Linked DNA regions of Homo sapiens: region 2 is reported to be linked to region 1. The links are microRNA targets in miRTarBase. Many come from high-throughput screens and were not tested one by one. Region 1 holds a microRNA gene; the other region holds the end of a gene's coding sequence.
Evidence for each region. Region 1 holds the annotated microRNA hsa-miR-30a-5p (UGUAAACAUCCUCGACUGGAAG, at 1,856-1,877, shown strand). A microRNA usually pairs through its seed, bases 2 to 8, with sites in the 3' UTR of a target mRNA and lowers its output. Matches are read on the target gene's strand: a 7mer-m8 pairs with bases 2 to 8, a 7mer-A1 pairs with bases 2 to 7 and ends in A, and an 8mer does both.

Region 1 (5,071 bases):
CTTTATTGCCTGTATGTATGTGGGCTCCTCTTTTAGCAAGATATGAGCTAGGTGAAGTCTATGTGAAAGCTAAAGCAGATTTATTCCAGTCAGATGCCAGACAATTTTACCAGTTTAACTGAGACTCATTATTACTTAAACTACATGCTTGTTTTTTTGGTTACTGAGTAGTATAGGTCCCACTTGGATCAGCAATTCTCAAAGTGAGAGGGTGGCAATAGAATTATTTAAGTAATTATTTGTTATTTGAGGTTGTTTGCTTAGTATTTACTTGTCACTGTTTTACATGTTATTTAATAATTTACAGTTATTTAAAAGTGGTAAGATTCCAAGGCAAGTAGGGGACCTGTCACTTTGAGAAAAATTTATGGTGGTAAAAATATTTTCTTTTTGTAAAGAGTCACTGATATACAATGTCCCCCCAGGGTGTAAGCCTTGGTATTTATCTATTTTAATTAAAGAGTACTCTGCCTGTCTAGTCGTGGCTAACTTAAAAGAAGTGGGTATCTTGGTGAGAAGTTCACAAGGTTGGTAGCCATAGCTGAGTTTGGTGGATTGACTCAAGCTCTAGTCAGCAGTGGTATATGAATGCCAAGTACTAAGAATTTCTGGAATGTAGAATTGCACAGCACTGATAAAGTTTGCTTTGTTCCCCTGTGTGACTTGACCCATTGAGAAAACTGGTTCCCTAGGAAGTTTTAATAGTTCAAAGTCCTTAGTTAATAAAGAAAAAGGCCACAACATAATTCAGCTTGTTTTCACCTGCTGACTCAAAGATTAACTTTTTTAACCTTAATGGGATAGAGTTACCCTTTGCTTTGAGAAAGTAATTTATGGAGTTCTTCATATTTGTTAGTTTCAGTAAACATGATGCTTTTTGTGTGGATTTTATTTTTGTTTCGGGTTTGAGATCACAAACTACTAAGACTTACACAATTTAAGAACCTTACGGTAACTTCATCTAAAAACAAATCTCAGGGAAAGGCACACCCACTTTTCTGTATCAACTTAATCTTTCACTAGATTCAGAATGGTTTTGAATTACTTCAGGAAAGTAGTGACTGATAGAGCTTAACCTTCAGTTTTCCTCATTTATTTTCATAAGAGAATGGGAGTGGAATTCAAAACATTCAAATTTGGAGTTAATGTGCGTCACTGTTGTGAGTGATAGGTTCTGTGTTTTTCCAGTGGGAAACTTTGATCCACATACTGATATATGCCTGTGTTATACCTCGTTATTCTTTTCTGTTTTTCTCCTGATTGTTGCTTACTCTTTCAAAAATCAGCTGACTGTACAAGTCCTCTCTGGGAGCAGACTTTAGAGCAAAAGTGATCTATAAAAGCAGCATGTAAGTCTTTTTTTTTTTTGTCAGAGTTTATAACTTTCCAAGTAGACCTTTTATATTTTCACGGTAGTCTAAGTTCACTCAACTGCAGTATTTGATGTTAAATGTACGCTTTACGCTGTTAAGATAATTTAGTTTCTGTGTTTGGTCACTTTTGCTTAAAGGATTGTAATTACATAATGCATGTTGAAATCATATTAAGTAACCTGGCCACTTGCCTATTTACTTCTTGTGGCTAACAATAATGAATGAAACCATTTATATATGTTGTTTTAGTATATCACAAAATTTTATAGAAACTAGAAGCTCGGTGATGAATAATAGACATCCATGAGCCTTCTTATTTGTTTTGAATTTGAGACATTTTCTAGAATATTGCTGTTTGAATGAGGCTTCAGTACTTTACAGAATCGTTGCCTGCACATCTTGGAAACACTTGCTGGGATTACTTCTTCAGGTTAACCCAACAGAAGGCTAAAGAAGGTATATTGCTGTTGACAGTGAGCGACTGTAAACATCCTCGACTGGAAGCTGTGAAGCCACAGATGGGCTTTCAGTCGGATGTTTGCAGCTGCCTACTGCCTCGGACTTCAAGGGGCTACTTTAGGAGCAATTATCTTGTTTACTAAAACTGAATACCTTGCTATCTCTTTGATACATTTTTACAAAGCTGAATTAAAATGGTATAAATTAAATCACTTTAAAACCATGTCTGTACATTTTTAGAGGGCTTCAGCAGGGCATTGAGGAGGTGCTCTGTGTATGCATAGAATTTGCAATATCAAAAAGAAAGTATTCGTAAGAGAAATGAGGAAATGTGTTACAGTATTTTTATTTTTTTTAAAAGCGTAGTAGGGCAATATTTCCCAGAAAAATCTATGAAGTGATTTGTTTTGTCCTGCCCTTTCTGCAGTTTCAAAATAGGTGTTTTTTAGACCCATTCACAAAAAAAAAATCCATTAATGAAACCACAATTATTTGGGGGAAAAAAGTAAGATGAAGGGTTAGTTATTTTCACATTACTTGGATTAAACCCCTTTTATTTCCTTATAGGCTTAGTGTTTAAGTAATAAAGTAGCAGCTCTCAGCTTAATAAAGTGTCTAAAACAAACAAATACTGATTCAACTAACTCTATTATTTGAAAAACCTATTCTTGTTTCAGATGATTAGAATAGTATTTTAGGAATTTGTGGATACTGTTTCCATTTGGTTGAACTTTTAACTTAGCTTTATGCAATAACTCATATCTCTTAAAAATAATAAATACATCAAATTCTATCCTAAATATATGAAGACAATTTTAAGATTCAGAATCCTGTAGAAGATTTCTGTGATGGACATAATTTCTAATTTTCCTTTTTTGTAAATGCGTATTTTTCTTATGGCGGATATTTTTAATATTATACACTTAAATAGAAATATTTAAGTGTATAAGAGAAATATTTAAGTGTATAATAGAAATATTAAGGATACACTTATATAGAAACTAGACACTTTAAAAAGATATGAAAGTGATATCTTTTGTCCTCTAAAACACAGTATTTTATAAATATATAGTGTTTCCATTAATGTAAAAGAGTTTCTTTTCCCTGTTTAATACCCATTGATGATGATGATAAAGAAGTGATACTAAAACAGTATGATCATACCACTATTTAAAATAGTAGCATTTCTTCTAATACCTGGGATGGAGAGAAATATGTGTTAGAAATGTCTTTAAGTTTCCCTCATACATAAAGCTATCAAAACTCTATTAGTCATGCTGGGCCATGAGAGGTTCATCAACTGCCACTGAAATGCAAGGGGCTTGGAGAGGCCTCTGCCAGGCCCTGGGTCTGGAACTGAGAATGTGGTCTATTTTAATTGGTAAGCTGAAAACCCCTGGAGCAAATAACTCGGCTGTTTTTCTGGGGTCACCCGACCGTATTTCCTAGGTAAATGACTATAGGTTTGAAGAAATGGTTAAACTTTTCCTAAATCTTTGACCTTCACTTTCTTTAGGTTCTCTTCCTATGTTATTTTATATCCTCTTCCTTACCTTACTGCCCCTAAATTTTCCATTTTTCATTTTTATCTGTTCATTTTGTTCATGTAAATAATTAGTTATGGGAACTTTTTAATTTGTAAAAATTACAGCATTTTTAATTATTTTTAAATCAACAAATACAAACCTCCATAAGCCATTCCGGGTAGTTTCAAAATTAATACCTAGTATTTCTTATGTCTTGTGCCCCACATTTCCACAGTAATAATGTAAACTACTATTTTAAAGTAACATCAACAGTCCAGGCACGGTGGCTTACGCCTGTAATCCCAGCACTTTAGGAGGCTGAGGCAGGTGGATCACTTGAGGTCAGGAGTTTGAGATCAATCTGAACAACATGGTGAAACCCTGTCTCCATTAAAAATACAAAAATTAGCTGGGTGTGGTGGCACGTGCCTGTAATCCCAGCTACTGAGGTGGCTGAGAATTGCTTGAACCTGAGAGGGAGAGGTTGTGGTGAGCCAAAATGGTGCCACTGAACTCCAGCCTGGGCGACAGAGCGAGCCTACCATCTCAAAAAAAATATATCTATATATATATATAGATATACATATAAATAAATAAAATAACATCAACAGTGTGTTATTCATAATTGAAATAAGATCTGGATGCAATTTTTTATTTTACAAAAAAAATAACTTCTAAAGTTTACAGTATTATGTTTCTACCACTACGTGGACAGAGTTACCATGCATGTGCTTAGGTAAGATAAACTAATATTTAACATAAATTAGAAACCCTTACTAATTGCTTTCATGTGTTTTTTTTCTTACTATAATTTTTAAAATTTCACATATCAGCATAATAAAATATCTATAAACTAAAACATAAAATTCTTAAAATGGACTGTAGTAAGTCAGTTACTGAAAATAAAACACTGTCAAAATGTGTTAGTTAAATGTAATGTGAGTGTTGCTATAAAGTTAGTAATGTTTAAAAAATAGCACCACACTGAGTAATCATCAAAAGTATTATACATTTAGTTTTTATTCATGATTTGCCAAAATAAAAATTGGCACATGCTTGAAAGGGAGATTTCTAAAGGAAGTTAAGAGCTTCTGAAAGTGTCAGTGGTGAATGATTTAAGTGATACTTATTTTTCCTGACCTTAAAACTCTGATTTGAACTTGCACTCCATTTTACAATGATGTTGTCTATAAATATTACACATGTATGAAGCCTTTCCTCTACTACAGAATAACTAAAACCAGACCAGAGGACTGTGGAGGCAAGGGAAATGCATTTGAAGGCCGTCTGCATGGGAATTAGTTACCTAGACCTGAGAAACCCCTTTCTATTTAGATTCCTCTCAGAATTGCTCTGTTTTCTTTTACTAGAATTTTAGCTAAACATTACCATTCAAGGGGAAAACAATCTTTCCTGAGTGGTATCAATTTTTGGTAGCTTAATAACACTAATTCAAAATTGCCCGTTATTTTTCTGTATCAGAAGAGTAACAGGAAGTTAATTGTTTATCTTAATTTTGGAAGCACCTTACTGAAATTTTAAAGGTGGTGCTTAGTGAACTGTCTTAACAATCTCACTAAAATAATACAGAAGACTTTCTTCATGTGGTTCTATATCATAAGAAGTATTCTGTATAGATATGGAAGATAAATTTCCTAGTGCGTACTGTAGTTGTTTTTGTGCACTGCCAAACAAATACATAATGAAGCTGTT
Region 2 (5,071 bases), not on the chromosome of region 1:
TCTGTGTGTCTCCTTGCCTCTCTCCCTGTCACTGTCTCTCTCTCTCCCCTGCCTCCCCCTTGGTCTCTTTTTTTGCTGTCTCTTTCTGATGACCTTGTTCCCATCTCTGTGCGTGTGTGGCTCTCTCCCTGCCCATCTCTTACCATCTCTGCCTTCCTCTCCCAGGTCTTAAACGAATATTTCCACAATGTCTGTGAACTGGACCTGGTGTTCAACTTCTACAAGGTAGGCTCCTGGTGAAGAGGAGGCTGAAGGAGCCAGAGGAGGGGGACGGGGGGGACCCGTGGTGCACTAGCCACCCGGAGCCTCTGCTGAGGTCTGTGTCCCAGCTCGAGGGGCATCAGAGCCCCAGCTTCCAGGGTCCGGGCCAGCATCCTGGGGGGCCTCGTCTCACCCCAGGGTCTCCCCTCACACAGGTTTACACGGTCGTGGACGAGATGTTCCTGGCTGGCGAAATCCGAGAGACCAGCCAGACGAAGGTGCTGAAACAGCTGCTGATGCTACAGTCCCTGGAGTGAGGGCAGGCGAGCCCCACCCCGGCCCCGGCCCCTCCTGGACTCGCCTGCTCGCTTCCCCTTCCCAGGCCCGTGGCCAACCCAGCAGTCCTTCCCTCAGCTGCCTAGGAGGAAGGGACCCAGCTGGGTCTGGGCCACAAGGGAGGAGACTGCACCCCACTGCCTCTGGGCCCTGGCTGTGGGCAGAGGCCACCGTGTGTGTCCCGAGTAACCGTGCCGTTGTCGTGTGATGCCATAAGCGTCTGTGCGTGGAGTCCCCAATAAACCTGTGGTCCTGCCTGGCCTTGCCGTCTTTGAGCCCTTGCCTGTCTCCCCTGGGAACCAGATACCTAGGATGCCTTGCCTTCAGTCCATCAGTCAGTCAGTCAACAAACGCCCCTCATTGTGCTGAGCAAGGTGAGACACCCAGGTGCTCTTCAGACCTGCTCCTGCTCACCAAGGGCCCCCAGGCTGGAAGGGGTGATGGGTTTAGATTCCAGGCACTTGCTACTAAAATAACAATACTCAGCTAATGCTGAAGGGCACTCACCCTCTCCCAGGCATTGTTCTAAGCAATTGACATGTCTTACCTTACTTAAAGCTCACTAGATTATAAGTCTGGGACTATTTTTTTTTTTTTTGAGACATGGTCTCACTCTATTGCCCAGGCTGGAGTGCAGTGGCAGGATCATGGCTCACTGCCGCCTTGACCTCCTGGGCTCAGTTGATCCTCCCACCTCAGCCTCCCAAGTAGCTGGGACTACAGATGTGTGCCACCATACCTGGTTAATTTTTTTTTTTTTTTTTGAGATGGAGTTTCGCTCTTTTTGCCCAGGCTGGAGTGCAATAGCGCTAGCTCGGCTCACTGCAACCTCTGCCTCCCAGTTTCAAGTGATTCTCCTGCCTCAGCCTCCAAAGTAGCTGAGATTACAGGTGCGTGCCACCATGCCCAGCTAAGTTTTTTTTTTTTGAGATGGAGTCTTGCTCTGTTGCCCAGGCTGGAGTGATCTCCTGGCTCAAGTGATCTTCCTGCCTTGGCCTCCCAGAGTTCTGGGATTACAGGCGTGAGCCACTCTATCCGGCCAAGGACAGGACTGTTATTATCCCCATTTTCCAAGTGAGAACATTGTTCCAGGAATGTTTCAGGAACATTAAAAGACTTGACCAGGCTGGGCGCAGCGGCTCACGCCTGTAATCCCAGCACTTTGGGAGGCTGAGGCGGGTCAAGAGATTGAGACCATCCTGGCCAACATGGTGAAACCCTGTCTCTACTAAAAATATAAAAATTAGCTGGGCATGGTGGCATGCACCTGTAATCCCAGCTACTCAGGAGGCTGAGGCAGGAGAATTGCTTGAACCCGGGAGGCAGAGGTTGCAGTGAGCCGAGATTGTGCCACTGCATTCCAGCCTGGGCAACAGAGCGAGACTCCATCTAAAAAAAAAAGACGACTTGACCAAGGTCTGTAGCTAGTCAGTAGCCAAGCCAGGTTTGTTTTGAGCCAGTTTTGAAGCCAGGTGGGTAGCTCCAGAACCCTCATTTTTATCTGCTCGCCCCGGTGGTTGTTGGAAATGTAGGCACTGGGCTTGATGATTTGTGTTTCTTGGCAACAGCACTGCTGGCATTTGGGCCAGGACAATCCCTCATTGTGAGGCTGCTCCAGAAGTGGATGGACTTTTGACTTCCACCCACCAAGTGCCAGAAGTGGCCTTCTGGCCATTGTGATGATAGAAGCCACCCCTGAGTGTTTCTAGGGCCCTCTGAAGTTAAGGGGCCCCCGATGCCCACTGAGAGCAGAGTGTGGGGGCTGCTGGCCACACCTATGCCTGGCATCCTTCGCAAGCTGAGAACACCCTGGCCCCTGTCAGTTTCTTTCCTTCCTTCCTTCCTTTCTTTTTGACAGGGTCTTATTCTGTCACTCCCCAGGCTGGAGTGCAATGGCACAATCTTGGCTCACTGCCACCTCTACCTCCCAGGCTCAAGTGATTCTCCTGCCTCAGCCTCCCGAGTAACTGGGACTACAGGCGCCTGCCACCATGCCCGGCTAATTTTTGTATTTTTAGTAGAGACGGGGTTTCACCATGTTGGCCAGGCTGGTCTCGAACTCCTGAGCTCAAATGGTCCGCCCGCCTCAGCCTCCAAATTGCTGGGATTGCAAGCCTGAACCATGGTGCTCAGCCTCTTTTTATAAATATAAACTAGCATGTTAGTTTTTTATTGCTGCTGTAACAAATTATCACAAACTTAGCGGCTTAAAACAACACAATTTTATTCTCAATGAAATCTGAAATGGGTTTCAGTGGGCTAAAATCAAGTTGTCAGCAGAGCTGTCTGGACCATCTAGGAGAGAATCCTTCCCTGCCTTTTCCAGCCTCTAGAAGTTGCCTCCTGTTCTTGGCATGTAACCCTATCCTTCATCCTTCAAGCCAGCTGCGGAGCATCTTCCAGTCTCTCTCTCTCTGGCTCTGACTGATTTTCCTGCCGCTTGCTTTTACTGATAAGGACACCTGTGGTTACATTCGTCCCACCTGGATAATCTAGGATCATCTCCCCATATCAAGACCCGGACTGTAATCACAACTGTAAAGTCCCTTTTACTGTGTAAGACAACACATCTACAGGTTCCGGAGATGAGGATGTGGACATTTAGGGCGTGCTATTATTCTGCCTGCCACTTATATGGTGTCTATGTAAGAACTGGGGGCTGGGCGCAGTGGCTCACATCTATAATCCCAGCATTTTAGGAGGCCAAGGTGGCAGATCACTTGAGATCAGGAGTTCAAGACCAGCCTAGCCAACGTGACAAAACCCCATCTCTACTAAAAGTACAAAAATTAGCCAAGTGTGGTGTTGGGCACCGATAATCCCAGCTACTCAGGAGGCTGAGGCATGAGAATCACTTGAACCCAGGAGGCTGGGTTGCAGTGAGCCGAGATAGTGCCACTGTACTCCAGTCTGGGCGACAGAGTGAGACTCTTTTTGTCCCAAAAAAAAAAAAAAAAAGAAAAGAAAAGAATTTGGGCCGAGCATGATGGTTCACACCTGTAATCCCAACACTTTGGGAGAACGAGGTGGACGGATCACTTGAGCCCAGGTGTTCAAGACCAGTCTGTCCAACATGGTGAAACCTGTCTCAAAAGAAGAAAGGAAAGGAAAGGAGAGGGGAGGGGAGGGGAGGGGAGATTGGTTTTGTTAAGGTCAAAATCACACTCTGCTAGCCGAGTTAACCAGAGAGAGGATTCTAGCCGATGGAACAGCAAGTGCAAAGGCCCTGAGGCAGAACTTGCAAGAAGGCCAGTGTGGCTGGAACAGAGTAAGCAGAAGGGGGTTCGAGATGGTTCAGAGTGGGACTGGGGATGGGAGGGGAAGTCCGATCACACAGGGCCTGCTCGGGTTTATTCTGTGTCTGATGCCCGCTATGGGAAGGATGTTTCATTTTGGAGAACCTGGGGGATGGTGGTAACAGCTTTTTTGGGATACATACAATTCACCCATTTATGGTATTACAATTCAGTGGTTTTTGTTATATTCACAGAGTTGGGTAACTATCATCACAACCCATTTTAGAATATTTTTATCACCCCAAAAAGAAACCTTATCCTTCAGCCATCACCCCTCAATTCCCCTAGCACCTGGCAACCACTACTCCACTTTGTGTCTTATTGGATTTGCCTGGGCAGTTCATATAAATAGGATCATTTAATATGTGGGGCATGGGACAGTTTTGTGCCAAATCTGATGTAAGAGGTCAAGAATTGGGAGCAGAGCTTGGGTGCAGTGGCTCGTGCCTGTAATCCCAGCACTTTTGGAGGCCGAGGCAGGCGGATCACCTGAGGTCAGGAGTTTGGCCAACGTGGTGAAACCCCGTCTCTACTAAAAATACAAAAGTATCCGGGCGTGGTGGCGCATGCCTGTAATCCCAGCTACTTGGGAGGCTGAGGCAGCAGAATTGCTGGAACCTGGAGGGTGGAGGTTGCAGTGAGCTGAGATCACGCCATTGCACTCCAGCCTGGGTAACAAGAGTGAAACTTCGTCAAAAAAAAAGAAAAAAAAAATGTGCCTAACTAGCTACTGTAACACTTGACATGGATGAAGCTGGAAAACATTAAGCTAAGTGAAAGAAGCCAGACACAAAAGGCCGGATATTGAATGATCCATTATAGGAAACATGCAGAAAAGGCAAGTGCAGAGAGACAGAAAATGATGACGGGTTGTCAGAACCCAGGGGAAATGGGAGGGAGATGATAGCTAAAGGGTACTGGGGTTCTTTCTTGTTTTGTTTTGTTTTTAGAAGACAGGGTCTCACTCTGTCTGCCAGACAGTGGTGTGATCATAGCTCATTGCAGCCTCGACTTCTTGGGCTCCAGTGATCCTCCTCCCTCAGCCTCCCGAGTATCTTGTACTACAGGTGTGCATCACCACACCTGGCCAATTTTTTTAAAAACTTTAATTTTAATTTTTTTTTTTTTTGAGACAGAATCTTGCTCTGTCGCCCAGGCTGGAGTGCAGTGGCACAATCTCGGCTCACTGCAAGCTCTGCCTCCCGGGTTCACGCCATTCTTCTGCCTCAGCCTCCCGA

Region 2: the mRNA of AP2S1 is a reported target of hsa-miR-30a-5p. The part of its 3' UTR that is shown has no 7-base or 8-base seed match.

The regions. Positions count from the first base shown.
Region 1 is chr6:71,400,401-71,405,471 of GRCh38, reverse strand. MIR30A (microRNA 30a) reads left to right here and starts at 1,851; the gene lies at 1,851-1,921. RefSeq lists an enhancer at 2,855-3,383.
Region 2 is chr19:46,833,894-46,838,964 of GRCh38, reverse strand. It overlaps AP2S1 (adaptor related protein complex 2 subunit sigma 1), which reads left to right. Exons shown (of 5, transcript NM_004069.6): 4 at 166-225; 5 at 417-798. The coding sequence ends at 518. Among named protein-coding and RNA genes, the nearest start is that of SNAR-E, 5.7 kb to the right of the region's middle. RefSeq lists an enhancer at 256-756.